Regions from separate parts of the Homo sapiens genome. Here region 2 is linked to region 1. Evidence: fine-mapped expression QTL. Tissue or cell type: lung. Region 1 holds a variant in brackets; the other region holds the start of a gene. All regions are shown on one strand. Distances are from middle to middle. Region 1 overlaps SS18L1 (SS18L1 subunit of BAF chromatin remodeling complex). Region 2 holds the start of PSMA7 (proteasome 20S subunit alpha 7).

Evidence for each region. PIP is the estimated chance that this variant, and not a neighbour inherited with it, causes the effect.
Region 2: PSMA7 starts here. The variant in region 1 is fine-mapped to the expression of PSMA7 in lung (TOPMed, PIP above 0.99).

The regions. Positions count from the first base shown.
Region 1 is chr20:62,156,744-62,172,049 of GRCh38, reverse strand. SS18L1 (SS18L1 subunit of BAF chromatin remodeling complex) reads right to left here. Exons shown (of 11, transcript NM_198935.3): 2 at 13,302-13,378; 3 at 12,089-12,173; 4 at 10,470-10,614; 5 at 9,119-9,298; 6 at 8,428-8,592; 7 at 7,804-7,905; 8 at 6,536-6,628. Among named protein-coding and RNA genes, the nearest start is that of MTG2, 19 kb to the left of the region's middle. RefSeq lists enhancers at 9,907-10,519, 10,520-11,132, 10,815-12,014. The variant C/A (reference allele first, on the strand shown) is at 8,022.
Region 2 is chr20:62,136,059-62,151,364 of GRCh38, reverse strand. PSMA7 (proteasome 20S subunit alpha 7) reads left to right here and starts at 7,971. Exons shown (of 7, transcript NM_002792.4): 1 at 7,971-8,157; 2 at 10,421-10,547; 3 at 11,460-11,584; 4 at 12,168-12,290; 5 at 13,075-13,194; 6 at 13,939-14,001; 7 at 14,416-14,632. The coding sequence starts at 8,062. The coding sequence ends at 14,508. It overlaps SS18L1 (SS18L1 subunit of BAF chromatin remodeling complex), which reads right to left and starts at 7,596. Exons shown (of 11, transcript NM_198935.3): 1 at 7,476-7,596. The coding sequence starts at 7,544. RefSeq lists enhancers at 911-1,648, 1,578-1,872 and silencers at 7,120-7,169, 7,200-7,259, 7,380-8,089, 8,130-8,769.

The DNA of each region.
Region 1 (15,306 bases):
GCTGGGACTACAGGTGCCCGCCACAACGCCAGGCTAATTTTTTGTATTTTTAGTAGAGATGAAGTTTCACCATGTTAGCCAGGATGGTCTCGATCTCCTGACCTTGTGATCCGTTCACCTTGGCCTCCTAAAGTGCTAGGATTACAGGCGTGAGCCACGGTGCCCGACCATGCCCAGGTAATTTTAAATCTTTTGTAGAGACAGGGTCTCTCTATGTTGCCCAGGCTGGTCTCGAACTCTTGGCCTCAAGCAATCCTGCTGCCCCTGCCTTCCAAAGTGCTGGGATTACAGGCGTAAGCCACCATGCTCTGCGCAAAGAATCCATTTTCTACTTTACTTTTCTGGTTGGAAATAACTTTCCTTTTTTAGAAGCTGTAAAATTTAAGTATTTTAAAACTGCAATCTAGTATTTTTTTTAAATAACAGCTTTATTGAGATAATGCACACTGGAATGGCTTAAAAACCTATCAGGGTAATTCAATCTGTAGTTAGGTGGGATGACAAAACTAACACACGCTCTTATTCCAGGCTGAACTCCTCCTAAGGCGAGAGCTTCGGAAAAACTTACTTGAGCCTTTCCAGTTATTCTCTATCCAGGAAGTATCTTGAGTCTTGAACTTCCACGCCTTCCTCTAAATCCAGGGCCGGTTCCAGCAACAGCTGGCAAACGAGCTGTCACCGTCACGGGAGAAGACTTAAGGTCACTATCCTTTCTCCTGCCCCCATGAAAGCCATCTGAGACATGGGGGAGTGGGTTTTCAAGGGTGTCAGGCTTTTGGGGGTCAGCCTGCATATTCTCATGTTTTATAGCCCACTTTATTCTTTACATAATAAAGGAGCCAGTTTGTGGCCGGGTGCGGTGGCTCACGCCTGTAATCCCAGCACTTTGGGAGGCCGAGGCGGGTGGATCACAAGGTCAGGAGATCGAGATCATCCTGGCTAACATGGTGAAACCCCGTCTCTACTAAAAATACAAAAAATTTAGCCCGGCATGGTGGCGGGAGCCTGTAGTCCCAGCTACTCGGGAGGCTGAGGCAGGAGAATGGTGTGAACCCAGGAGGAGGAGGTTGCAGTGAGCCGAGATCGCATCACTGCACTCCAGCCTGGGCGATAGAGTGAGACTCCATCTCAAAAAAACATAAACAAAAAAAAAAAATAAAGGAGCCAGTTTGTAGGAAACGGGCCAGCTTTGCCCTGGCACCCAGCAGGTATGCAACAACTGTGAGAGTGCCAGCTCAGAACACCCAGCCCCAGCACACAGGGACCAGGCCTGGCTCTCACACCCCAGTGGGTGCTCAGGCGATCTAGTGGGAACTGGCAGCAGCCGCCCTATCCCCAAAGAAAGGGGGCTGCTGAGATAACTGCAGGGAAAGGGGGCACGACATCTGTGGAAAAGGCCTTTGCCGTTTTCAGATGTGTTGCATGAAATCTGCAGGGCTCGGGGGAGCCCAGGCCGTGCTCTCAACAGGACAGCAACGGGGCGGGCAGATGTGGGGCCTTCCTCCACAACCAGCAAGTACTCCAGGGTTCTTTCTTTTCTTTTCGAGATGGAGTCTCGCTCTGTCACCCAGGCTGGAGTGCAGTGGCACAATCTCGGCTCACTGCAAGCTCTGCCTCCGGGGTTCACGCCATTCTCCTGCCTCGGCCTCCTGAGTAGCTGGGACAACAGGCGCCCGCCACCACGCCCAGCTAATTTTTTTCTATTTTTAGTAGAGACGGGGTTTCACCGTGTTAGCCACGATGGTCTCGATCTCCTGACCTCGTGATCCGCCTGCCCCGGCCTCCCAAAGTGCTGAGATTACAGGCGTGAGCCACCGTGCCCAGCTCTTTTCTTTCTCTAAGAATCCTCTGGCATTCTGCGGGGTGCCCGTGAGAAGGTGCCGGGCAGCATGGCGCATCTGTGTGTGAAACAAGAGGCCACGGCACACCCTCTGCTTCCTCAGAAGGAGCAAGATGTGGACACAATGAGCCACGAGGAACATGTGAACGACGCTCAAAGCCGTGTCACATAAAAACACAGTGATCCACACGAGGACGCAGCCAAGGCGGCCCCAGCACTGCCCAGGGAAGATGAGTCCCACAGGCCCCGGCCACACCACCCTGTCGTCCACTCCTGGGACACGCTGGTCACCACCTGGCGAGGGCCTGAGAAATGCACACGACACGCCAGCCGCGCTCGGGACTCCAGGAGGTGTGGACGGTGTGGACAGCCATAAAGTGAGGTCCTTTCAGTTTCTGTGACAGCCAATGATGTTCCTTTTTTTTTTTTGGAGATGGAGTCTCGCTTTGCCGCCCCAGGCTGGAGTGCAGTTGCGTGATCTTGGCTCACTGCTACCTCTGCCTCCTGGGTTCAAGTGATTCTCATACCTCAGCCTCACAAGCAGCTGGCTTTACAGACATGCGCCACCAAGCCCAGCTAGTTTTTGTATTTTTGGTCGAGATGGGGTTTCACCATGGTGGCCAGGCTAGTCTCAAACTACTGATCTCAAGTGATCCACCCGCCTCAGCCTCCCAGAGTGCTGAGATTACAGGCGTGAGCCACTCTGCCCGGCCCCAATGATGTTTAATTTAACTTCTGAAGCTGCCAATACATCTACATGATTCAAAGGTACATACAGACGGACTCATACCTTCAAGAGGTCCTGGGAAGGTGGCCGCTTCCACCCCTGCTCTGGACTGCCTGAGCCCTAACCCCATCTCCTACCCGGAAGCATTTGTGTTGGTTGTTTTGGTGTTTGTCCATTGGCTGACGGTGTGAGTGTGCGTGTGTGCAAGGGCACAGTCTCCTCTTGCCTGCATTTTCACAGAGGCACATCCCATGCGCCCAGCTCCATACTTGGCTTTGGCAGCTCATGGGCGGTCTCTCCTAGCAGCAATGGCGCCCAGATGCCAGGTCACGAGGGGCTGCGCTCTGTCCAGTATGCGTCACTGCAAACCTCACTGTGACGCGAACGCGGGACTCGCACCCTCTCCTGGCCCCTCCCCCACCGAGCACCACATCCCGATGCTCCTGCCCAGCACAAGTGACCCCGTGGCCCCCGCTGTCCCCTCCTGGCTTGGTCAGCCCCACTCTGGTCCCCTCCTATTACTGGTGCCCTGCGCATGAACACCCTCTCGTTTTATCAGATTCTGCAGGCTCCTGACTGATGCCGTCACCAGGAACAATTCCAGCACCAGCCTGTCCCACTCATCCTGCTGTGGGATGACTCAAAAGTTGGAAAATTCTTTTTATTTTTGAGACAGGGTCTTGCTCTGTTGCCAAGGCTGGAGCGCAGTGGTGTGATCATAGTTAAGTACAGCTTCGACCTCCCGGGCTCAAGCTATGCTCCTGCCTCAGCCTCCCAAGTAGCTGGGACAACAGGCGCATGCCACCACACCTGGCTAATGTTTTTTAGTAGAGAGGGGGTCTTACTATGTTGCCTAGGCTGGTCTCGACCTCTCAGGCTCACGTGATCCTCTGCCCTGGCCCCCACAATGCTGGGATCACAGGTGGGAGCCACTGCACCTGGCCTGATGCTGGGATCACAGGTGGGAGCCACTGCACCCGGCCTGGAAAGTTCTTTATGGTGCCTTTGACCCATTCCTCCTAACGTCCCCCCAGCCTCTCCACTGCACCATGGGCCACAGTTGTGTTTGAAGGTGGCTATGACACATCCGCCAATCTCTTCAAAGCAAAGCATCTCCAGGCCTCTCACCCCTGCAAGACTTCACAGTACCACCTGCTGTAGGGTAAAGTGTCACCATGTATGTGCACTCCTCATGTCAGAGTCTAACAAACAGATGGAATAAAATGCTTCTAAATCAAGGAGGAAACCACACCATCTGTCTTACTGGCCTTAAGAGGTTACTAAGCTTTTCAGCAAATTTCTCATCAATGATGGAAGGCAAGAGTACCTAACCCACAACAAGCTACGGAAGTACCTATCAGCCAGGCACAATGGCGCACACCTGGAGCCCCTGCACTGTAGGAGGCTGAGGTGGCACTTGAGCCCAGGAGTTCAAAACCAGCCTGGGCAACATGGCAAGACCTTATCTCTACAAAAATTAAAAAAAAAAAAAAAAAAAAAAAAGCCAGGCCTGGTGGTGCATGCCTTTAGTCCCAGCAATTCGAGAGGCTGAAGCAGGAGGATCACTTGAGCCTGGGATTTCCAGGCTGCAGTGTGCCACGATCAGGCCACTGCACTCCAGCCTAGGTGATAGGGCAAGACCCTGTCTCTTTAAAAAAAAAAAAAAAGTAGCTACATCAGACACTAAAAGGCTGAGCAGCACATCCTGCGTTTGTTTTTGGGACAAAGTGTGGCAGCCTTGGGCAGACGCATGTGGACACCTCGCCATGGACAAGGCTGAACCCTGTGCTCCAGCTGGAAGGGACAGGGCCAGGCCCATGATGGCAGAGATCCTGCTGACTCCCAGGGCTTACGGAGGCACCACTGCAGCCAATATGCCAGAAGATAGCCTCTGGGTGCTGGCCACAGGGTGGCTTTTGTTTTGAGACAGGGTCTGGCTCGGTCACCCAGGCTGGAGTGCTGTAGTGCAATCTCAACTCACTGCAACCTCTGCCTCTGGGTTCAAGCGATTCTCCCACCTCAGCCTCCTGAGTAGCTGGGATTACAGGTACCCGCCACCACGCCCGGCATTTTTTTTTTTTTTTTCGGGAGAGAAAGGGTTTTGCCATGTTGCCCATGCTGGCCTCAAACTCCTGAGCTCGGCCGGGCGCGGTGGCTCACGCCTGTAATCCCAGCACTTTGGGAGGCTGAGGCAGGTGGATCATGAGGTCAGGGGTTCGAGACCAGACTGACCAACATGATGAAACCCCATCTCTACTGAAAATACAAAAATTAGCTGGGTGTGGTGGCGGGGCCTGTAATCCGAGCTACTCAAGAGGCTGAGGCAGGAGAATTGCTTGAACCTGGGAGGCGGAGGTGGCAGTGAGCCAAGATCATACCACTGCACTCCAGCCTCGGCGACAGAGTGAGACTCCGTCTCAAAAAAAAAAAAAAAAAAAAACAAACAAACTCCTGAGCTCAAGCAATCCTCCTCCACTGGCCTCCCAAAGTGCTGGGATTACAGGCGTAAGCCACCATGCCTGGCCATTTCTTTTTTTTATTTCTTTTTATTTTTTTTGAGACAAAGTTTCACTCTTGTTGCCCAGGCTGGAGTGCAATGGCATGATCTCAGCTCACTGCAACCTACACCTCCCGGGTTCAAGCAATTCTCCTGCCTCAGCCTCTTGAGTAGCTCAGATTACAGGCACATGCCACCACGTCCAACTAATTTTTGTATTTTTAGTAGAGACGGGGTTTCACCGTGTTGGCCAGGCTGGTCTCAAACTCCTGACCTCAGGTGATCCACCCACCTCAGCTTCCTAAAGTGCTGGGATTATAGGCGTGAGCCACAACACCTAGGCTCTTTCTTCTTTTAAACTTTCATTATGTATTCATGTACTTTTTGTTTCCCCCAGGTTTACAAAGGTGTAACTGACATTTCAACGTTGCAGGCATTCGTAGCGCACACCGTGATGTTTCTATATGTGCCTACACTTGCGTGCTTTATTTCTTCACAGCAGGCTGAGATGTGTAAGCTCAGAAGCAAAACCTTTACACATCCAATTCTTTAAGAAGTAACCCAAACAAGGAAATCTGTAGCCGTTTAGTGCCTGCCTGCTTTGTGTACCTGGTGAAGCCTCACCAACACTGTTACCTCTTGATAAATTGCAGCCCTGCAGTGGGAAGGCCTCAGCCACTGCTGCCTGCCGGTCAGCGTCAGCAGACACGAGGCCCCTCTCCCCAGGGACTGCAGGCCCGCCTTCCCTCCCGGACGAGGTTGCGCAATCCCGCAGGCGATCATCAGCTCTTCTCTGGGGGCCATCTTTATCCCGGGGTGGGACTGGAACGGGCTGTGTGTACCTCTTCCCAACTCCACATTCTGGGATGTTCTGTTGGGGTTTCAGGGCAGCCAGGGTGGGGGCACAGACACCACAGAAAGGGGCAAGTCCACCCGACACGCAGCCCCCAGCGCAGCACTGCCCAGGACCGCCATGAAGGGCGGCAAGCCCCCAGCCACAGATGTGCGTTTCCTGGCCTGCAGGTGTCTGAAGAAACGCGAGGCCACACCCAGCGCAGCCACTGCTGGCCTCCAGCTGAGGAAGCTCTGAGAGTGGCTCGCAGGCCCCACGATCCCTGGCCAGACCCAATAACAGAGTCTGTGTCCCCAACCCCAGCATGGCCGGCTGAATCCTTCCTGTCGCAGGCCCCACGCTCCCTGGCTGGACCCAATAACCAAGTCTGTGCCCCCAACCCCAGCATGGCCGGCTGAATCCTTTCCTGTCTCACGAACACACCCATAAGGCAAGCGGGGCTCCCGACACAGCCTGAATTTCCAGCTTCCAGAACACACTGTCTCTCCTCCCACGCGCTGTGCTGTGATTTAAGGGACTCACTGAAGGCAGGCACCGCGTGCTCCTAAGGGTGCAGCGTCTTAACTCTGCTGCGTGTGGCGCTTACGCTCGAGCCCAGCACGCAGCCGTGCTCCTTACCCCCCTCATAGTAGTGCTGCGTGGACTCCTCGAAGGACCGGTCGTAGCTCTGCTCCGTGTAGGATGACTGCTGGTAGGCGTAATCGCCATGGCCTGTGCGAAACGGAGACGGCGACAGTCAGCGGAGGCTGTGCACTGCACAGGTCCCGGAGGAGGCAACTGAGACCCAGGCTGGGGAGATGTTGTCTGGCCAGGGAGGCAACAAGAGCCGGCAGGACCCGTGTTCCCCAAAACCATGCCCCAACCTCCTGAGCCTCGGCCTCCCCACTGAAATGCAGACATCAATGCCTCCTTCTCGGGGCGACTGTGAAGCTACCTGGGGATTTATGCAGAGGATCAGCGCTTTCAGTGCCTGCCACACAGCCATGCTAGTGACCCGACTGCCTTCTCCCCGCCACCGCTAGCTCCTGGGAGGACGCAGGCAGGGGTGTCCAACCCTTACCGAGGCCTTCGCTGCATGTGACCATCACGTGGCCAGGGTGGCTTGCCCTGCTGCCACCTGCCCACCTGTCTGTGCACCTGCCCCTTGCTGGCTGAGGCCAGCTCCCTGCCTGGATGCCTCCCAGGGATCAATCCAGCCTTTAAGACCACTTTATTTTATTGTTATTTTTACTTTATTTAGAGACAGGATCCTGCTCTGTCACCAAGGCTGGAGTGTGGTGGTGCGATCATGGCTCAATGCAGCTTCAACCTCCTGGGCTGAAGCGATCCTCCTGCCTCAGCCTCCCAAAGTGCCGGAATGACAGGTGTGAACCGCTGTTTTCAGCCAAGACCACTTTCAGTATCCCTTCCACAAGCCCTGGGACTATGCAAAGACTGAAAGGTGACGACGGTAAAATACTCTGCAGAGATGAGAAGGTGCAGGAGGAGAGGTGCTGCAGGTGGAGCCGTCACCTTCAGGGCATTCTCTGTGAAGCTGGGAGGCGCCTTCTTGAACATTTCCACCTATCTACAGCTAGGAGCTACAATTATCCGCCTCCAACTCCCACAGCCTTTCAGGAAGTAGAGGCAAGGCCGCGTGGAGGCCAGTGCAGCGGTGTGTGCCACAGCTTCTCTCTGCAGAGGCCAGGCACCACTGCCAGCCCAGCTCACCCCATCCCCTACCTTGCTCCTGCAGGGCGTCTGGCCACTCTGCCTGTAGCCCAGGCCTGAGCTGGAATGACTGAGGACACACTGCAGTGGCCACACCCTCCTTGCCCTCCTTGCCCTCCTTGCCCCTGCAGCTGCTCTGCGTTCCTGGGCGGGGTCAGGCCGCCGCCAGTGCTCACCGTCGGGGTAGTACTGCTGGCCCATGGGCTCCGCGGCGCCCTGGCTGTGGCTGTACTGCTCGCCATAGTACTCCTCCTGGCCCAGGTACTGCTGGGAAGAGCCTGCGGGGGAACCACATTCAGCGCCAGTGCGGGCCGCGCCCTCCTCCCTCAGAGGACCTGCTCGCTCACTGGGGAAGCCAAGGCCTTGCTGAATGGCCTCACCCACCCGAGGAGAA[C/A]ACCCCACGCTGTCATCGTATCCAACTTATGTTTTGTATTTTTAGTACAGAGTTTCACCATGTTGGCCAGGCTGGTCTTGAGCACCTGGCCTCAGGTGATCCGCCCACCTCGGCCTCCCAAAGTGCTCGGACTACAGGCATGAGCCCGGCCTGTGACACTCTTAATGACAACTGCCGCCCCTGCCCCCAACACTGACTCCTCGGGGACAGCAGACCCTCCACGGGCCACACCCTGGCCCTCACCCCCAGGGTCCACACTCAATGTTAACACCAAGGCGCCAAGCCTCACTCCCCCAGGCTCCCCGCCTCACTCCCCCAGGCTCCCCGAAGAGAAGCACACACAGCCTGGCACTTCACGACCCGCGGCGGTCAGCTGTGCCCGCGACCTGGCCCGGCCGGGCGTTACCTTGCTGGGAGGGCCGGTAGGGCGCCATGGGCCGCTGCCCCATCATGCTGCTCCCCTGGCTGCCCTGCCCCATCATGGCGATGGACGACTGGCCCTGGTAGTGCTGGCTGCCGCCCTGCGCCGAGCTGTAGTGCGACGTGGCCGCCTGCTGCTGCATCATGGAGACTGAACGACAGGACAGAGGCCCCACATCACCCCGGGAAGCCTCCCGCCCTCCCTCCCACACCCAACTACCTCCTGCGCCCGGGCGGGTTCCTCGTTATTTTCCTGTGCTCCCCACGAGGACAGCGTCCTCCACCGCAAGGCACGCCTCCCCTACGTGGCCTGCACTGACGCCCTGCAAGCTCAGACCCGCTGCTTGCACCGACTCTACCCCACCTCTGAGAGCCCAGTGCTGTCTGTCCAGACCCAGGGCCAGTGGCCCCCACTCCCTGGGGCATTCCCTGAGACTCCATGGGAAACACCCCAGCCCCTCGCAAAGCTGGGGGACAGGAGGAGTTGATCGTGCACCCACTGGCGCCCATCCCTCCGGAAGCTCTCAGAGGCAGCGGCCAGCCCCGATTCACGGGCCCCTCCCCTCCAGCACCCAGCAGGAGGGCAGCTTCCCCGGGACCACATGTCCAACGTGCATGTGTCAAGGGTCTTGGAGGCAGGCCCAGGCCCCCCGGGGTTGCAGAGGCAGAGTAGGTACCTGGGTTGGACTGCATGTTGATGTTGGTCCGAGACACGTAGTTGCCGATGGTGCCTTGCCCCTGCATGGGGACGCCCTGCGAGGCGGGTCCCGCGTGGCTGTAGCCGGGCCCAGAGATGCTCATGGAGGTGGTGGGCAGCGTGTTAGGCGCCGTCTGCTGCATGGACACGTGGCTCGGCCCTGGCATGGGGAGCAGGGAGTGGTGTCAGGCACTGGGGAGCCAGGTCACCACTTCTGAAGGTGAAGACACCCCAATTTCCCTTCAAGTGACTTTGGGAAGAGTTGCTATCAACAGCACTATTAATGATTAAGTGACTAATAAATAAGTGGCCGGGAGCAGTGGCTCATGCCTGTAATCCCAGCACTTTGGGAGGCCGAGGTGGGTGGATCACCTGAAGTCAAGAGTTCGAAACCAGCCTGGACAACATGGTGAAACCCCGTCTCTACTAAAAATACAAAAAAATTAGCCAGGTGTGGTGGCACGTGCCTATAATCCCAGCTACTTGGGAGGCTGAGGCCGGAGAACTGCTTTAACCCGGGAGGCGGAGGTTGCAGTGGGCCAAGATCATGCCCATTGCACTCCAGCCTGGCCGACTAGAGCGAGACTCTGTCTCAAAAAAAAAAGAAAAGAAAACAAAGCAGCGTACATGCTAGCAAAGCACAGGATGAATCGTTTATTTGTTGTTATTTTGTTATTATTTTCTGAGACAGGGTCTGGCTCTGTCACCCAGGCTGCAGGGCAGTGGCATGAACAAGGCTCACTTCAGCCTCACCCTCCCAAGCTCAAGTGACCCTCTCTCCTCAGTCTCCCGAGTATTTAACAGTTTGGACTACAAGTGTGCACCATCACACCCGGCTAATATTTTTATTTTTTGTAAAGATGGGGCTTTGCCATATTGCCCAGGCTGGTCTCAAACTCCTGGCCTCAAGTAGTCTGCTGGTTTAGGCCTCACAAAGGGTTGGGATTAGAGATCTGAGCCACCACACCCGGCCTGTTATATTACTGTTAATGGTCTCCAAACGTTATCCATGCTTCTCAATCCAAAGACAGGAGCATTCCATTCCTATTACACAATCCACCTGGAACCCCGCAACTTGCATTTGAATTTGATGGAACGTGACAGTGTCAGAGAGAGTGGACAACTGGAGCAGGGGCTCAGCCCAGCCGCACGGCACGCTCGCTGCGGCCCTGAGCCTGGGCGATGGCAGCCGACCTGTGGCTACCCCAGGAGGAGTGGGTCCCATGCCCAGCCCTGTGAGGGGTGGGGTGCCCCACCATGGCAGCCGGCTGCCCAAGGGCTGCCTTGGTGGCCTCGTAGCCAGGAACGTCCTCCTCCCCCGCCGCACTCACCGTTGCCAATCTGGCCCTGCAGGAGGGAGGAGGGTGGCAGGCCCGTGCTGATGGCGTCACTCAGGCTGCCCTGAGAGTGCAGGCCCTGGCTGGAGCCGCTCTGAGTCAGGGCTCCAGGGCCCAGGTTCATGTTCTGCGTGGGCGGCTGCAGGCAACAGGAAGTTTTCAGGGAAAAACGGTTAATTTACGGAGAGCGACCTCCACAAGCCAGGCCAGGGATGAGAGGGCACCCGAGATTTGCCGCCACACATCATGGCCACCTGGTCAATGTTCGTAATCAGCAGCCATCGTCACAGCCAGGTGACCGCAGAGCACCAGGCCCAGATGGAGATGGCAGAGTGAGCATCTGGGTGAGCGTTCACAACCCTACTGAGTATCAAGTTCATCCACACGTGCCTGGGTGTGAAAAGCTGGACCTCCTCCTGGGACAGCAGGGAACCCCTTTCCCGGCCCACCAGGCTGAACGCACCCCGTCCCCCTCGGGCGCAGGTGACCAGCGCCTCTGTGCTCCCCAACCACGACCCCTCCGTGCCAAGAGCTTCGGCAGAGGTGGGATCCCTCTCCTGTTTCCCGTGCTCCTGCTGCATGTGCCCCTTCCCCGACTACCCCCACCCCACACCCGCCTCGGATCACACCGCACAGAAGGGAGTGAGTGTGAAGTGGCCCTCAGCACTCTCCCAGATCAAGGTCAACCAGCAGCTCTGGAGGTCTGCACACACATGCTGTCTACACCTGGCCAAGAAAAGGAAATTTCCACCAGGACCTGTGGGTGTCTGCAGGGTGAAGAAGTGCAATTTGACAGGTCAATGGAGGTGGGTTTAACATTTTTACTCGCAAGACACATCCTGGCATTTATGTCATCACTTGCCGAGGACTAAGGGTCACTAGGAGATACGTCATTCCCGGCGACATGTCTGTCCCGGAACCCCGTCAGCAGGACAGAGGCTGCAGCAGCACGACCTCGTCTTCACTGTGACAATTTAATCTTGGAAAAATGCATTTTAAAAAATCAAACAAAATAAAATATTTGAACTAACACTGGGAGAATTTACTGTGCTGGGCATGTTCTCTTTTAAGTTCCGTTCTCACCCACAGCAGCGCATGTGCACGGTTCACAGTGGCTCAAAGCACCCGGAGAGGCTCCAGGGAGACGCAGGGCCCCCATCCCACCTCTCCCCATCCCACCTCTCCCCACCCCACCTCTCCCCACCTCTCCCCATCCCACCTCTCTCCACCTCTCCCCACCCCACCTCTCTCCACCTCTCCCCACCCCACCCCACCTCTCCCCACCCCACCTCTCCCCATCCCACCTCTCCCCACCCCCGACCCGAGAGCTGCGGCTGCTCCTGGAGTGGCTTCTCCGGGGCTTCCCTCCCTTCAATACATAACGAGGCTGAGCCACAGTTCTGACCTGGCCACCTCAGACGCTGTCATTACTCCCAGTCTGTCAGGAAGGGTTGGTCACCACCGCCCACACTCCCATTTCTGGTGGCTCTAGTGGTATTTTTGGTTTCTCTGAGTCATCTTTGCTACCTGAGATGACATGCCCACAATTCCGATCTTAGGCAGTGTCGGAGTCCTTGCTGGGTAAAGGAGGCCAACCCCCCGTGGGTACTCACGGCAGGAAGCAGGGACTGCATGTTCTGGTTGGAGTCTGCGATCGTGGCCAGGTATACCAGGTTCCGGTGCAGGATCTGCTGGTACCTGCAGGAGAGGGGGCACGCATGAGGCAGGACGACGGGACCACAGAGTCCCCACGTGGATCCAAGGCAGAAGTAAAGTGTGAACAAGACAGCCTGACATCCAGCCAAACCCCATGAGGACATGGACCCCAGATGACACCCAGCTGGACACAGGCAGGTGGCAGGGTGCTGGGGTCTCGGTGGGGACGGGAGGGCAGCCTCTACCCCAAACCCTGAGCAGGCTCCCAACCCATGACAAAAACTCTGGAAAGACTCTAAGGTAACAGCTAAGCGGAAGCTGGCATTGGTCTGTTCAGAGGATAGAGATGGGGGGAGGCCACGAGGAGGCAGGGGCCCGAAGGTGACAGAGGGACAGAGCCCTCGTCCAGCTGAGCCAGGCAGTGGGCGGACTCCATAGAGCCAACGACCCTGAGAAAGCCCTGGAAAGAAATGGGGAAGCACAGTTCTGCCAGGGAAGGCCCCTCGTATACCTCGCACCAGTGGGGACCCAGTCCCTTCACCCCACCCACACCCAGGGGTGTCTGAGGCCATTCACGCACTTCCCACCTCCAGGTCAGTCTGACGGCCACTTGGACAGCCGCTTGGAGGGTGGCAGACTGGCCACGCACCCCTCCTACGCATCAGGCCCTAGGTTCACAGGGTCACAGGAGGTCCCACCTGGAGTAGGTGCTGTCTCCTGGTGCGCTGGCTGTTGGCCACAGAGCTGCCCAGAGAGGCTGGCCCAGGCCTCCCCACACTGCTCCTGCCTCCCACTTTCCGCCTCCCTCAGAACTACCCCAGTTCTGGCAGCAATGCTTCGCAGCTGTGCCAGGGACTCTCGGGACATATCTGGCCTCCGTGCTGGGGGACTCTCGGGACATATCTGGCCTCCGTGCTGGGGGACTCTCGGGACATATCTGGCCTCCGTGCTGGGGGACTCTCGGGACATATCTGACCTCCGTGCTGGGGGACTCCTGGGACATATCTGGCCTCTGTGCAGGGGACTCCTGGGACATATCTGGCCTCCGTGCTGGGGACTCCTGGGACTTATCTGATCTCTGTGCTGGGGGACTCTTGGGACGTATCTGGCCTCTGTGCTTAGACTCTGCATGACACCCTCCAAGTGTTCCGGTGTATGGCGGGCACTCACTGCGTGCACTCGGCCGTCTTGCCCTTGCTCTGGTACTCCAGGATGCACTGGATCAGGTGGTGGTTCTCGTCCAGCATCTGCGGAGAGAGCGTGAGCGGGCGCTGCCGACGCGGGGCTGTCGCTGACCCTCGGGATGAACAGCCATCGCTACACATCTAGTTTTCATATAGGTTGAGCGTCCCTTACGTGAAACGTGTCAGATTTCAGATTTTTCCAGATTTGGGGATATCTGTATTAGACCCACCGGTTTGGCATCCCTAATCCGAAAACCCGAAATCCAAAATGCTCCAATGAGCATTTCCTTTGAGCCTCATGTTGGTGCTCAAAAGGTTCTGGATTTTGGAGCACTTCAAATTTCCAGATCTCGGATGCTACGCCTGTTCTGTATACGAAACTGTCGTTACGTGCATTGCCTCAGCCACCACAGACCGAACATTCACACCTCCCTGTGCTGGGGACTTCATCCGTAAGCGGCAGGGCCATCTAAGCCCACAAATGAAAACACAGAGGCCCCGTGCCCCCAGCAGCCCCCAGCCCGAAGGACCCTCCAGCTTCCAGGGCCCTTGACGGCAGAGCATCTGTGCAGCAAGGGTCAGCCAAGCCGATGGCAAGGATGTCAGGACCCTGTGGGCACCCCACAAGAGGCCCTGGTGCCCCTAGCTGGAGGGGATAGCCTCGAATTGCAACCACACAGGGTGGGGCACAGGTAACTGCCCCCTCCCAAGGATCAGCAGGGGTCCAGGGCACTCCCAGGTGGTAAGGGCATCGAGACTTCCTGCAGGGGCTGCACCAACCGCGGTGAGGGAGGGAAGGAAAGGGTCTGGGGGGGTCAGGGACGGCACCACCGGTAGAAGAAACCACACACACACACAGGCCGGCGTGGGGGCAGAAAAGATGCGTGAGACTGCGGAACCGGGCATGACCTAGACCTGGGGCTGGCACCCCGCAGCCCTCACCCCCAGGGGTGCTGCGCTGAAATGCAGGAGAACGGCACGATAGGCCCACAGGCCACACAGGGAAGGCCGGTCCCGTCTTGAACCTTCCGTGTCTTACACATAAAGTGTGTGTGCACAGACAAGGTCATGACCCTAAACCCAGATTAAACCAGTTTCAAGTGACTCAGGTGAACAGCCAGATGTGGGCCTCCCAGAGCTGGGCCAGGGGTCTCTCTGCAGGCGCCACGTGCTCCTAGAACTGGCAAAATGGAGGCTTCTGGTCCAGGGACGGCCAGGCATACACTCCGCCAAGCACGGTCTGCGCTCAAGATGGGCACTGCCAGGAACCTGTCAGATGCAGGGGCTCAGCCTGTCTCTGACCTGGTGACCCACGTGCCTGGCCACACCTGAGCAGCAGGGGGCTGGGCCCACAGATTCCCCAGGTTTCCTTCCCAAAGCGCCTCCTGAACGTGCTCTGTGGCCCCAGGAGGGCTCCGGAGCACTCCCCAAATCAAGCGGCCCAAGGCCTTGCGTCCACACACCTGCACGTAGTCAGGACGTGCTGAGTCTGGTGGTTGGTAGAAGTGGGGAGGGGTGGGTGGCAGCAGAGGAACAGGGGCTGGGGCCAGGCGGCATCCTGCAGACACCACACAGGACGCCCACAGGCCGTGGGGAGCAGGCACAGGAGAGCCGGCTCTTTCAAGGTGTCCACCTGGGGGCAGCACTGGGTGGCCCGCGGAGACCCAACGGGAGGCGAGAGAGGAGAGAGGGGGTATGGGAGGGGACTGAGAAGAGGCGACACCCGCCCTGTGACCAGCTGCCTCTGTCTGCAGGGAGGCACAGAACTGAGCCCACCACGCCTGCTGCTTTTCATAAAAAGGCCTTTTCTCAGAGGCTGGCACCCAAGGAAAAAGCAGTGCCTTTTGGCTCCACTACAGCGTGCTGGGTCACTCAGCCCTAGGAGGCCGCTCCCGACAGGAGCTCTACAGGCCCTGGAGCAGGGGAGCCCCAGGGCAAGGGGAGGAGGAGCCCACCTGCCTGCCTGGGGCCTTGGGGCCACCCAGCTGTGC
Region 2 (15,306 bases), 21 kb after region 1:
GATTTGGCAAGCGGGGACTGACGGGGGACACGGGGCTTGGCTTGGAGGGCCCAGGGCACAGCCAGGCACCAAGGATGGGGTCTGGGGCTGCTGAAGCCCCACCGTGGGGTCCTAACTGGGTAGGCGAGGGAGTGAGGATGAGAACCAGGGACGGAGAACTGGGGTCCCAGAGCCCACAGAGAGTAGGGGAAGGGCTGGGGCTACCAGGCAAAAACCTGGGTGAGGGGCTCTCAGCAGAACAGTCTCTCCCCAATGACAACCTGTGTGGGGCCCTGGAAGCCAGACAGAGGAGGCCTGGGGCTCTGAGGCTCACTGCCGGGGCTGGCTCAGCCCACACTGGGCAGGAAGACCTCCAGTGTCCTCATGGTTGTCCTTTCTAATTACAAAGACTTTTGGAACCTTTTTAATTTTGCAGGAGGAACCCCTGGCTCCTCTTCCCCAGAGGCCAGCTCTGCCGATTCTGGAAGCGTCTGGCATGGAGCCTGTGCACTCCCCTCCCGACTCTGCACACACCTGATAACGTTTCGCTCCCGCTGCTCCACACAGCTCCCTTTCCTCTCAAACATCTTGGAGACTGTCCTCTGTCAGCACATAGAGACCTCACCTGTCCCTTGAGCCCAGGAGGACAAGGCTGCACGAGCTGTGATCACGTTACTGCACCTCAGCCTGGGCGAAAGAGCAAGACTCTGTCTCCAAAAAAAAAAAAAAAAAAAAAAAAAAAAAAAAAAAAATCCACCTCAATGTTTCTTATGCTCCGGAGAATTCCACAACATGGACACAACGTAGTACTCTGTCTGCTTGGACAGACATTGAAATTGTTCCCCGTCTTCTGCCACTACATGCAGGGCTGCCATGCACTCCCCACGCATGGCGTGGACACAGACGCAGAATCAATTCCTAGGAGTCATCAAGGTGTGAGGGGGACCAGCCTGGCTAACCGGAGAGCTGGTCGAGCATCAGCAGGTGGCTAAGCCAGCGATGGCACCTGCGCTAGCGCCTGCCACTCCTGTTCTCGGGGCAGACATCGCTGACCCATCAGCAGTCCTTCCCTCTGAGCCCAGCCTGAGCTGCTCCGTCCCTGCCCCCGAGGTCAGCAAGCCGATACTACAGACTCCACTGATGGAAGCCAGTGGGACCCCTCTGAACATTCACCCAACTGTGGAATCCGTGAAGTCGGTGTGTAGGTTTCAGAAGAGCGTCTCAATTTACACATGTGCAGTCTCCTTGAGAGGAGCTGGCTGCTGCCTCACGGCCCCACCGCTGTATGCTTGACGTGTGTGTGCAATTTCAAAGACTCTAAGAACATGTGAAGACACGCTGAACAGACACAAGAGCAGCCGCCTCTGCATGTGCCTTGGCAATCACTTCCAGTCTCATGGCGCTTTGGGCTGTCACAGCACAGCACAACACAACAAAATCACTGTGCTCCTGACAGTTTCCAAGCTGGAGACGTGCTTATTGTACTAGCAACACGCGACGTCTGTATGCATCTCATCCATGTGCTGACACTGCTTTTTCTTTCTGACATGACCCTGGACTTGCGATGGTTTCCTGCAGTTTGGAATGGAGTCCTCACCTCCCTTTCCGAATACCACGGATAAATTCCGGCCATTCCTTGCTCGTTGAGTGCCTGATCAAAGGCTAAAGCTGACCAATTACAAGGCTGCTGGGCATTGCCTTACCCATACAGGCTATGAGGGAGGCCACAGCCCTGTCCTCTTCGTAAAGACAAGGAAACTGGGGCACAGAAAGGCGAAGCACACATCACCATCAGCAGGATAAGAATGTGAGCCCAGGAGGCCCGGCCTGCCCCACCCTGCCCTCCTGCAGCTCCATGGCCCCCATCCCCATCCTGGTAACACCAAGGACCTGCCTGCATTCCACACCTATTTCCCATTTGAGGAGGATATAAACAGCCCATTTCCGTCCCCATTGTGCACAGCAGCTGTGGTGGCCGATTAGAATCAGACCAGTGTCACAGGAGCCCCCTTCCTACCATCATCCATGGCACCTTCTCCCAACCCTTTGGACTCCTCTTGTGATCACATGGAGGGAGGTGGTGGAGGTGCCTGCCCGAACCAGGCGGGAAGACCTGCACTCCCTCTTCCCAGGCCTCCCAGGCCCCACAGGCCTTACGGTCCATCAGCGCCAGCCCGCTAACTGCTCGGCACCCAGGGCCTGTTTATTCCTGCATCCACTGGGGACGGGCGTGACACTGCCACCACCTGCAGCCCGGGGATTCCAGGGAATCTGTCTTCTGACTCCAAGCACACAGAGGCAGGTGCCCAGGCCCCGACCCACTGGCCCAGGGCCCAGACCGCGCAAAGGGCCGGAGCCTCGAGGAGAGCACCCGCAGGACCGCCGGCTAGCGAGCACCACCTGGGCAAGACCTGGGCTGCCTTTGGCTGCTGGCTCCAGACTCCACACCCGGCGACTGGATGGCAGACAGGGACTCTGGAGACCCACCAGCCTTGGAAAGGTCACGGGTAAAGGGCAGTGGGCAGGCACAGTGTCTTTATCCAAATGCGTCCTCACCCTCCAGGCTGGGTAGGAGTTGGGAGAGCAGCTTCAGGAGCATCCAGCAAGAGGGTGTATGGCCAGGCTTTACAGGCAGAGGGGGGACAGAGGCCAGGCTGTGGCTGCTCCCTCCAGGACAATGCCTTTCTCCTGCCCACCTCCCCCGTGGCGCTTGGGTTCAAGGGCCTTGCAGAGCGCCTCCCTCACCTGACCTAAGACAGCAAGGAGGCCGAGCCTCCCTCACCTGACCGAAGACAGCAAGGAGGCTGAGCCTCCCTCACCTAAGACAGCAAGGAGGCCGAGCCTCCCTCACCTGACCGAAGACAGCAAGGAGGCCGAGCCTCCCTCACCTGACCGAAGAGAGCAAGGAGGCCAAGCCTCCCTCACCTAAGACAGCAAGGAGGCCAAGCCTCCCTCACCTGACCTAAGACAGCAAGGAGGCCGAGCCTCCCTCACCTGACCTAAGACAGCAAGGAGGCCGAGCCTCCCTCACCTGACCGAAGAGAGCAAGGAGGCCAAGCCTCCCTCACCTAAGACAGCAAGGAGGCCAAGCCTCCCTCACCTGACCTAAGACAGCAAGGAGGCCGAGCCTCCCTCACCTGACCTAAGACAGCAAGGAGGCCGAGCAAGGCCGGTGGCTGCGGGGTCCCTCCCCGGGGCTGAGCCCAGGCTCCGGAATGAGGGGACCCAACCCCCCTATCCCTGCGGATGTAAAGACAGGCCCCCATGCTCCCCTTCTCGGGTGGGGGGAGCCTCTGATCGCAGGAGGAACGCTGTCAATCAGCCACATGCAAGGGAGGCTCGGCATCCCCAAGCCATTCAGTCACTGGACAGCTTTAACCTTACAAACACTCCTAGCCAAATTAGCTTGCGTTCCTTCAGACAGCAAGTTCCACTTCTGAGGGAGCACACAGGGTGCCCACTGCCTACTGGGTGTGCACCCCATCCTCCGCAGCCCATCCCCACCCAGAAGTGCGCCCCTTGCCCATGCCCCACCCCCGCACCTGGGTACCAAGGACATGGGGTAGGGCTGGTCCAGCTTCAACAACTCCCTGGCTCTCGGACCCTGGGCACGGCACTAACCCACCCCACGAAGGTCTTGTCTTCCCACACCAAACCCACCCAGCAGGCGGCCCCAGGGGCCCACCTCCTCTCAGCTCCATCCCATTCCCTCAGAGCCTTTCCCCAACCCTGCCCCGCAACAGGTGCTGGGGATCCAGACACCCAGCAGACAGGCAGACACCACTGCTATTATCCGGCCAAGGAAACCAATGAGAAAACCAATACAAACAGAAACAGTAACACATTTATTGAGCAATTACTGCATGCCAAGCAGCAAAGAGGCAACTCAGGGGTCCCCTTCAAGCCTGGCCACATGGTCCGAGGTGACCACTGCAGGCCCAGCCCCAACAGCAGCGTAAGGAGCACGCACTGGACAACAGAACACTACAGTCCCCAGCTGGTGGCTAGAGAACACCCAGCCAGGCCCAGGGCCACCGTGGGGACATGGCCCAGCCCCACCGCAGGGTTCCCCAGCACAGTCATGTCCTCTGTGGTGCTTGCCACAGAGCAGTTCTGACTGTCTCACCCACACACTGCTGCCTGGTCACCACCAGCTACCCTCCCCACATCAGCCCAGCACCCCCTGCCCTTCCACTTTAGGTCCCCCAATACCTGCTCCATGCAGGCCAGGCTCGGGACCCTCTGTGACTCCCTGCCCCTGCCCCATGGTTCTCTTTCTCTGGGATAGCCCTCACCACAAACGCACTCTCGTGGGCTAAACTGTACCCAGACCCCTGGTGCCTGCGCATGGGAGGTACTGGAAATGAGGTATTTGAAAATGAAATAAAGACGGGGTCATGCTGGATTAAGGTAGGCCCTAAAACCAGTGACTAGAGTCCTTATAAAAAGTGGGAAATTGAGGCCAGGCATGGTGGCTCATGCCTGTAATCCCAGCACTTTGGGAGGCTAAGGGGGGGAGGGGGCAGATCACTTGGGGTCGGGAGTTCAAGACCAGCCTGGCCAACACAGAGAAACTCCGTCTCTACTAAAAATACAAAATTAGCCGGGCGTGGTGGCACGCGCCTATAATCCCAGCTACTCAGGAGGCTGAGGCAGGAGAATCGCTTGAACCTTGAACGTGGGCGGGGGCGCGGAGGTTGTGAGCCCGAGATCGCGCCACTGCACTCTAGCCTGGGCAACAAGAGCGAAACTCCATCTCAAAAAAAAAAAAAAAAAAAAATGATCAAAGCAGAGACACGCTGGATGCACCTACAAGCCAGAGAACACCAAGGGCTGCCCGCAGTCATCAGAAGCCAGGAGAAGAGCAGGTAACTGACCCCTGGACTTGGGACTTCTGGTCTCCAGAACTGTGAGGGAATAGATTTCTGTTGTTTGAAGCCACCTGGGTTGTGGGAATGTGTCAAGGAAGTCACAGGACACGAACGCATCTGCTTATCTCAAAACGCTTCCACTGATGGGACCAGCGTCACAGATGATCCAGCACGTGCTCAGCACTAACTGTGCTCAGACACTATGAGAGGCTGGGGATCAGCAAAGAATAATCAGTCACATGCCAAACTCAGGAGCTCAAGCAAGTGCTACAAGGGCCACATGACTGCCGACGGAGCATGAGACGCGGAACACGTGAGTGAGGCTTTGAAGGTTGAGTAGAAGTTGGCCTGGAAGATCTCCACCCACACAGAATGCTGTAAGGACAAGGTGTAGACCTCTTTCTCCTTCACTACCAAGCAGAATGCTGTAAGGACAAGTTGTAGACCTCCTTCTCCTTCACTACCACGCAGAATGCTGTAAGGACAAGTTGTAGACCTCTTTCTCCTTCGCTACCACGCAGAATGCTGTAAGGACAAGTTGTAGACTTCCTTCTCCTTCACTACCACGCAGGCTTCAGAGGGGTCCCTGGCTTCTCTTAAAGCTCTCGGCATGACACTACCAGCACACACTGTGGACACAGCACACGTCTGAGGCATAGAACATACACCTCTCACACCTTTCTCAGCCTTCTCACACCTCCCAGTAAAAGATCCCTGGGTACATATATTCACCGTCAAAACACCAAGCCCAATACGCAGACTGCTGGCCCTACCAAGCCAAGTCAGCAGCCTAAACTGAAGGCCTATTTCCAATGGTCAGCAGGCTGAGTTTCTGCCCAGGGACCCACGGTCCACAGGTGCATTTCTTCCTTTCTGATCTGATGTTCGGGGCAGCACCTCAATACACACTTTTACCTGGAGAATTTGGGGAGCTTCAATGGAACTGTGTGCGAAGTGCAAATAATGGGATAAACGTTGCAGCCAAAGGTAGCTTCAGGAACAATGACTGTTAAGCTCCAAAAAACCAGAGTGCCAGGAGATGCTCTGGGTTCCAACATTTGCCTCTGAGCCTAGAGCTTGACCTCCGCCTGGCCAAATGTTCCCAGATCAAGGGGCACCAACAGAGCAGACCCTGGAGCCACCGTATGGGATCGACACCTGGCTGTGCCACTTACCAGCAAGGCATTTAGCCCCCCTAGGCCTCAGTGTCCACTTACCAGCAAGGCACGGCCTCCCTAGGCCGCAGCCTCTTTAGCTATTAAACGGGATGCCAGTAGCTTCTATGAAGAATTGGATGAATCAAGATTTATAAAACCCCTAGAACAGTGTCTGGGATACGGTAAGCGCCACATAAGTGTTTACTAAGTAAATTAAAATGCCACACTTGTAAATCTGTATTTCTGCTATTCTCAATCTCTCCTGTTCAGAGTTGGCCAAGGTTCTCATTTGTTAAGACCATCAAATTTCTAAAACTAGCAACAGCAAAGGTAGTCTCAAAATAGGCGATAGATTTAGGACAACTTCCACAGGAGACTGGCACGTCATCAAGGAATAACAGCCTCAGTCAAGGTCAAGGTGAACCCCCTTAGGGAGACAAGCGGCTCCTGGGAACCTAGGAATACCACTGTTTATCCCTGCAATCCCACCAGGGTGAAGACGGAGTCAGAGTTTAGGAAAAAAAACCAATGTCATTCCAACAGATGTTGTGACAACTGAAACGGGTATGGCTAATGCTGATTTTCTTCCGAATCTGTCTTCTACAGAAAAAACAGCAGAAAATACAAAGTCTCAATTTCAAAACTTAGGGCTTTGGATAACGGTGTCCCAAACCCACATAAACGCTGTCTCTTGAAAACCACAAGGCCGAACTTACGGAGCTAGAAGAAAGGTTGTGGAGCAAATCCGTCAAGTTTGTTAGGCGAGGCGGCTGGCGAGGGTGTCACGCTGAAACCCGGCGTAGCCGCGAGGATACGGAGGGGGCGGTGCGCTCCCTACGGGGCCGGGCTGCGTAACGATGCCCCGCAAATGGGGATCGGGACGCGTCCTTCCGTGCCTCCATCGTTCGCGCCTCGCTCCAGGAGCAAGAGGGGCAGCCCCGGCCACAGTCCCCGCGGTCGCAAGTGCGCCCGGAGGCCGACCCGGGCCCCTCACCACTAACCAAAATGAGCGCAGAAAACGAGTACCGCCCGCCGTCGCCACCGAAGCTGGCTGCGGAGCGCGACAAGCCCTCGCCGCGGCTCCGGCCCCGAGGGGTCCCCGTGCGCCCGGCATAGCCCAGGACAGTTCCCAGCGCGCGCCGCGGACTCGGGGGACAGCGCGCTCGGGGGCCGGCAGCCTCCAGCGTCCGCCCGGCCCCCACCGCCCAGTGCCCCGGCCCGAGGGACCCGCGCGCCCCAACAAAGTTGGCGCAGGCTCTCCGGGGACCGCCCCCCACACGGCCGGGTGCCCGCCGGCGCGCAGGCGTGGGACGCGGGGAAGGGCACGGGGCCGCCGTCGGGGCTCGCGGCCGCCCGGCTGCGCCCCGGCTTTGTTCGCGCCCCGCGCCCGCCAGCTGCCCGCGCCCCGTCCCCGCGCGCGCCCGCCCGCAGACCCGCCGCCCAGCGCCGCCGCTCCGGCCCGGCCCACCTTCTGGATGGTTTGCTGCGTAACCTCCCCTTTGCCTCTTGGCCGGGCAGACGCGAAGGCCACGGACATGGTGGCGGCGCGGGGCTCAGCCCGTGGTCATCGAGGTGGATACTCCGGCTGCGCTGGGCGGCCCGAGGCGCTCATTATCCGCAGTCGCGGAGGGGGGGAAGGGGGCGGGAGCGCGGGGGGCGCCGCGTCGTGGGCTCGTCCGCCCCGTCGCCGTCGCCGCGCCTCCGGGCCCGCGGCGCCGCCGCTCCGCCCTGCAGAACGGTCTGCGGCCCAGTGCCGAACGGTGGCCCCCGGCGACCCCCTCGCACCCAGCGCCCGGCCCTCGCCGGAGCACCGCCTCCCACCCCCGGCCACCGGTGGTTCGGCCTGACCCCGCCCCGGCGCGCGCCATCACGTCCGCCCGACGCCGCCTGACGCTGCCCGTCGCCGCCTGACGCCGCCCGTCGCCGGCAGCGCAGGACACGGCGCCGAGGGTGGGGCGCGGGCGTAGTGGCGCCGGGAGTCGCGGGTGCGCGCGGGCCGTGAGTGTGCGCTTTTGAGAGTCGCGGCGGAAGGAGCCCGGCCGCCGCCCGCCGGCATGAGCTACGACCGCGCCATCACCGTCTTCTCGCCCGACGGCCACCTCTTCCAAGTGGAGTACGCGCAGGAGGCCGTCAAGAAGGGCTCGACCGCGGTGAGGCGGCGGGGCCTGCGCGGGGCCGGGGACGCGGGCGGAAGTGGGGCTGGGGAGCCCAGAGAGGGCCGGGGCCGGGCGCGGCGCTGTGGGCGCCCGCGGGCGTGCGCGGGGCAGCGGCGCGGGCGGTCAGGGCTGTAGCTGAGCGCGGGCCCCGCTGCCGGTCTCCACGAGTGCCTGCAGAGGCGGCGTTTGGCGTGAGCCGCGAGCGCTCGTTCTCCCCACTCAGCGCCTCGCTTGGGGCCCGGCCTCGCGTGGGGCCCCGGGCACGGGGGCCGTGACGACGCCATCTTGAGCACCCCTGGCCCCGGCCGGGCGCGTGGGTCGCGCCGCCGCCCCGGCGAGCAGAGGCCGGGCGAGGGCCGCTCTGGGCCGCGGAGCGCGGGGGGTAGGCCGTGCGCTCGCTGGGGGGCTGTTCACGCAGCCGGGTGGCTGGGGAGCGAACTACTCAAACCCCCCTTATGGGGACCCCCACCCGCTCCGGGGCAACACTTATTCTCTAGGCCCAGGTGGGCTTCGAGAACAAAGCGGCTCGCTGGCCTGGCCGGTGGCGGGCGCCTCCCAGGTCTCCGCACTCTGCCGGGAGGAGCCTTCCCGGGGCCGGGCTGCAGCCGCCCGGGTCAGGACTGGTTTGGACGCGGCCGTTTCGTTTTGACGAGGGCTCGTGTACATTGACCTTAGTGACATTGTTTGAAACTTAAATTCGTACCATCAAGACGTGTCAGTTTAATTGGTCAGTCTGTGAGATCGTTATTCTTTTATCATCTGGTATTCAGAGGTTTGAGCAGGCAGAGAAAGCAGCACACACGGTTCTGTAAATTTTGATTTGTTTTCATTTTCTGAATCTTTGTTTTGAAATGAAGGCCCAGTATTCATCAGGTGATCTAACTCAGCTTAAAGAGGACTAGGAGTCGGCTGACCCCTGTACCCACCCCAATACTGCCACCCCCGCCAGCTGGCCGCCGCTGGCTTTAACGAACCCATATAGCTTCTCTGGGCCTCGAGTCAGTCGAAGGTCAAGTGAGTCAGTACCTGAGAAAGCTCCCAGAAAACCCAAACACTTCAGATCAATACTTCTCAGCCAGGGATGGTTTTGGGCCCACACGGAGCCACTGGCAGTGTGTGGAGACTTTTCCAGTGGTAAGACCTTGCAGAGGTGCTCTTGGCATTTGGAGGGTAGAGGCCAGGGACGCTGCTCAATATCCCACCCGTGCTCAGGGCGGCAGGCACAGGGAGATCCCCCTGCCCAGGTGCTCACAGTGCTGAGCTGGAGAAGCCCTGCTCTAAACCAGGAGGCGCTGTTTATCCCAATGATGGTTCCCTTTGTTTCTGGCTTGACTCGGGTTGACTGTCAGTGATTGTTCATGCTTTTAATAACAGCCATATCCTTCTCCAGCATCAGCCATAAACAGTTTGGGATAACACTTGACACCTTGTCCACTGACGGCAAATCAGGCCCCTTCTCATGGCTGTCACATGAGTATGTCACAGTGCAGGAAACAGTGCATTGTGGCTCAATATAATTTCACAACTACAGAAACACTGCCTTCAGAACACCAGACTTGAGTGAAAGTCTCAGGCTTCCAGGCTTTGCATGGGACTGATTCATTGGGTTGAAAGGAAACACATGCCGATTATATAATGGTTACTTACTAGCTATGTTGTAACTAAAACTACATCTCAGTATTTGAAAGGCCCAGGTTGGGCACCTAGGTGAGCACGCCTGGGCTAGCTCTACCAGCAGTAGATGAATACCCCTGGGTTTGCAGGATGTGGTGCCAGCCACAGTGACAGACAAGTAGAGGAGAAAGGGGTGTGGGTGAACGCACCTTCCAGTGGGAGCTGCTACCCGGAGTACGTACCCCCCAGGACCCAGGTTCAGATCTGCTCCTACTGCTCGCTGCCTGGCAGTAGAACCATGTATCACTTTTTTGGGAGGATAGGGTGGGGTGAGGGGACAGGGTCTTGCTGTCTCTGTCTCCCAGCCGTCATGGCTCACTGCAGCCTCCACCTTCCAGGCTCTAGCGATCCTCCCACCAGCCCCCACAGTAGCTGGGACTACAGGCTTCAGCCACCACACCTGGCTAATTTTTGTACTTTTTGTAGAGACAGGGTTTTCCCATGTTGTCCGGCTGGTCTTGAACTCTTGAATTTAAGTCATCCACCCACCTCAGCCTCCCAAAGTGCTGGAATTAACAGGCATGAGCCACTGCACCCAGCACTCATATCACTTTCTTACGTGGTTTGTGGATCTTAATTAAAGGTTGGTGTTCGAGGAAGAGACATTGTTGTTCTTGGTGTGGAGAAGAAGTCAGTGGCCAAACTGCAGGATGAAAGAACAGTGCGGAAGATCTGTGCTTTGGATGACAACGTCTGCATGGCCTTTGCAGGTATGAGTCGGTGGGGAGCGCTGTCTTACTCTCTAGAGTCTCAGCGAAGAATAGGGCTTTGGAGATTAACTTGGGTGTGTGGGCTATTGTGAGCCATATAAACTGAGTAAATGAAAATCATTTAAAAGAATTGGATTTGGACTTTTAAGTTGGCTAGTTTCTTTGGTGGCCTCTCTCTGCCATAGCAGGTGAAACAAATGGCTAAATGGATGAAAACACTTCTGGCTGCTGCGCAATTTGACCTCCACTGTTATTTTTCTGTATCAATCAGTTACAATCTAGAGAAAGGCTGGACTTTCTAGAGCTAACTGCATCTGTGGCATGGAGAGGACAGAACCACGTCCTGCCATCCCCAGCAGTAAAAAGGACCACACTGGTGGATGCAGGCCATGCCTCGCCATGTTCTCAGCGCTGTTTTGGTCTTGCTCATTTCTCCTCTCAGCAGATGCAATCTAGGAAGATCTCAATTCATGTAATGAAATTAGGGATTAACTCAATTTCTAAGATTCCCAAGAGGACTCAGGTACTGTATTTAAGTATGGTCTGAAGTACACAATTCTTCATATGCAGACAGTCCCTGTTGATCTGTGTTTTTAAAAATCCAGATTCTGCACGGCAGCCTACAATTTTTTATTTACAATGGGTTTATGGGGTAGTAAATGCATTTTCAGCCAGGTATTTTTGACTTACGATGAGTTTAGCGGGATACCACCCCACTGCACATCAAGAAGCATCTGTACCCAATTTCCTGGAAGTTCCCAGGGGCTGATAGGTTCCGCTGCCAGTCAGTTAGAATAGCCTTGCTGCCGGTTTGGGGGGTCTGTGGAAGGTTAAATGCTGGGTCATCGTGTCTGTCCCCACCCTGTAGTTTGTGCTGTCTCTCTAGCAGAAGCCTCTCTGCTTTCCTTGCAGGCCTCACCGCCGATGCAAGGATAGTCATCAACAGGGCCCGGGTGGAGTGCCAGAGCCACCGGCTGACTGTGGAGGACCCGGTCACTGTGGAGTACATCACCCGCTACATCGCCAGTCTGAAGCAGGTGGGTGCCTGCCCGCTTGCATGCTCACCTCTGGCAGCAGGGCAGTCACGGCTCCGCCATGGAGGGTCCTGCCATGTCACTTCAGGTGAATCAGAAAACTGATTTATTCTGGGGCGTGATCCTAATCTTGACTTGCACAAGTGTAACTTGACCTAGCTCACCAATTTCAGTAACATTGTTCTGTTCTCAGTTCCTGGCATGGGATATTCCAAATTCCTGTGTCTGGAGGGAAATGATAGCTTTTGTCTTGCCATCCTGAGTGACCAGTCACAAAGCAGTTGAAGGGGGCTGGAAGCCACCCTATGAGGACACGCCATTAGTATGTAAGCAGAATGTGTGTCTACCTGTCAAAGTAATTTCCAGTAACCTGAGTTCACAATTCTGGTCCTAGGTGAGTTTTTCTAGGAGTGAAAATGCAGAAAAGGATGTTGAAAGCTATTGGCTAATGTATCATTTGAACTGCTGATAACCTGAGAAGGGGCTCAGGCATGGTTTAAAATGTTCGTATCTTCACTAAGTACGGTTCTTTCCTCACATGCAGTTTCTTAATTGGATGGCACTGACCTGTTTCTTTTCTTGCTAGCGTTATACGCAGAGCAATGGGCGCAGGCCGTTTGGCATCTCTGCCCTCATCGTGGGTTTCGACTTTGATGGCACTCCTAGGCTCTATCAGACTGACCCCTCGGGCACATACCATGCCTGGAAGGTGAGTTCGTGACAAAGGGGCTTTGGACAGTCTTGCCAGAAAAAGGCTTTGAGGGGTGGGAGGTCCTGGGCTTCCTGCTGTAGGCCCTGTATCAGTGAATGAGTCAGTTTAAGTTAACCTAGTCCTATGAGAGCAAGAAAATGATTAAACATTGCTGTTTGGAAGAAAATCAAAGGGCAGCAAGGTGTAAGCGTAGTCCACATAAATTAAAATTCTTGGGTGGGCGTGGTGACTCACGCCTGTAATCCCAGCACTTTGGGAGGCCGAGGCAGTTGGATCACCTGAGGTCAGGTGTTCGAGACCAGCCTGGCCAACATGGCAGAACCCTGTCTCCACTAAAAATACAAAAAAAATTTGCTGGGCATGGTGGCACATGCCTGTAATCCCAGCTACTCAGGAGGCTGAGGCAGGAAAATCGCTTGAACCCGAGAGGCATAGGTTGCAGTGAGCCGAGATCACACCACTGCACTCCAGGCTGGGCAACAAGAGCAAAACTCTACCTCAAAAAAAAAAAAAAAAAAAAATCTCCCATTGCCTCTTGATAGCGCAGTAAAACATACAATCGTATAACCCCATTCTCGGTAAGAATCAGCATCAACTCTAAAGAGCTCTTTGCAAAAGGAAGCCACGAGGCAGGGCCTGTGTCCACAGCTGCTGTCCAGCACTCCAGCTTGCCTCCTGCCACTGCCACTGGCTGGGCGGCCCATGTAGGGCAGCTGTGTTCCAGGGCTGGCCCTGGGTTGTCATGCCCTATGCCACGTGAGAACATACGTGTCTGTTTTAGGCCAATGCCATAGGTCGGGGTGCCAAGTCAGTGCGCGAGTTCCTGGAGAAGAACTATACTGACGAAGCCATTGAAACAGATGATCTGACCATTAAGCTGGTGATCAAGGCACTCCTGGAAGTAAGTTTGCATTTGGAATCCAGGCAAGGTGGTGAAGATACCACGTTTTGGTGGTGAGTGGTAGGTAGATGAGCAGGAAGGAAGGTGGCAAGGATCCAGCAGTAATGCTTAATGACTGCTGTGTTCCAGGCACTGCTCTGGTCTATGGTGTATCCTAACTGCTGTGTTCCTTGAAATAGCCATGCAAGATGTGATCATTAGTGTCTTTATCCAGCCGGGGCAGCTGAGGGTTGTGCAGGGACACACAGCATGAGAACCAGAGGCAGGATGTGAACCCAGCTGTCCAGCTGTGGAATCTGTTCTCGAGCCATCACTAGGCCTTCCAGAGGCTTGAACTGTTGCTAAAGTCAGGGGATTAGAGAACTGGAGATATGGTTGGGCTTTGTCAAGACCTTGAAGTGCTAGCAGGTAAAACCAGAGAGGGACTAGCTGGAAGGCCAGGCGGGAGCGTAGGCATCAGGATTCCTGGTTGTAACCACTGTGTCAAGAGGAGGGCCTGGAGCAGCGCTACTGTGCAGGAGAGAGGAGTCCCAGTGCTGGGAGGCGGAGGGGTGTGCAGGCATCCCAAACAGACTTCACAAATGGCCATGAGTTTAGGACAAAGACACAGGTTTTGGGGGCTGGGACCTCTGTTCCTGGGACGGTGCTGGGTTTGGGTACACACCTATTTAAGGTACTCCTGAGAGCTGCTTTTGTCTTGAATAGGGAAAGGTGGTTAATGCTCCTGTCTTCTGTCCCTTCAAGGTGGTTCAGTCAGGTGGCAAAAACATTGAACTTGCTGTCATGAGGCGAGATCAATCCCTCAAGGTAATCACCAAGTTTGTCTGCTTTCTTTACCTGTCAGTTTTCTCCCATGATCAGGGCTGAGCAGTACCAGTTCCGAAGGAAACATCATAGGGCCATTCTGTGGTTTTAACATTAGGAAAATGTCTTTCTGAGGCTCCCCATACGTCAAAGAGAAGATTCCCATCTTCCTCTGATTAGATGGTCCACGCGTGTTCTCTGGGCATGCTGAGCGGCTGCCAGTCAGATCTGCTGCTGCTGCTACTGCTGCTTAATACTTGTCTAGGTCAGGCCAGCATCCTCTTGTTTTTCTTGAGGTTCCTCTCCAAAGAGGCTGTATGAGCAGCAGTGCCAAAGCCTGGCCGCCCTCCCCAGAAGAGGGCGCTGGTTCCTTGGCACCTTGTGTGGCTTAGGTAACCATGAAGTTTTTTTCTATAGATTTTAAATCCTGAAGAAATTGAGAAGTATGTTGCTGAAATTGAAAAAGAAAAAGAAGAAAACGAAAAGAAGAAACAAAAGAAAGCATCATGATGAATAAAATGTCTTTGCTTGTAATTTTTAAATTCATATCAATCATGGATGAGTCTCGATGTGTAGGCCTTTCCATTCCATTTATTCACACTGAGTGTCCTACAATAAACTTCCGTATTTTTAACCTGTTTTTTTTTTTAAGAGAATGTGTATCTTTAGGTGCAATCACAGCAGTCCTCTCATCTCTCACCCTTCTTTTTCAACCCTGAGCCACCGTAATTGAGCTTTCCTTTCTGTTCCTTGTGGCTAAGACAGTAAGCCAGTGTGAGACACAGGTTCCTCCCTTGGGAAGTCAGAGCTGCTGCCCTGGGTCCTGCAGAGAAACCTGGCCTTCAGCAGACCTGTTTCTCTGTTGTAGACACAGAATGACTTCCGTTTGCTTTTAGACCTTCATTCTAGTCCCCTAATGAATGTATAATGTCAAGGACACAAACACAAGTAGCCCTGGGTTCATTCTGTAGAGCAGCAGCTTTGTTCAAAGCAGCTTTGCATGTCTGACTTTCATAGACCACATCTTGACGTCTGCCCCCTATGTTGAAGACTGGTTCTGGCTATTCTCTGCCCTTTCCTGTGTTTTGACTTCTAGTCCCACAGTTTAAGGCTTTTGGGTCCTCTGGTCCTTGGTTTTGGGCATGTATCTTCTAAAAAGGAGTAAAGGGGCCCAGATACATTTTGAGCTCAGCGTAAAATGTACAGTTGTCAAAACAATGAACATTTTAACAGCAAGGTCAGCTGGCACACGATAACCTGACTACCTTGCGATGCTCTGGGAGGCAATACCTGTTTCACCAAGTTCTC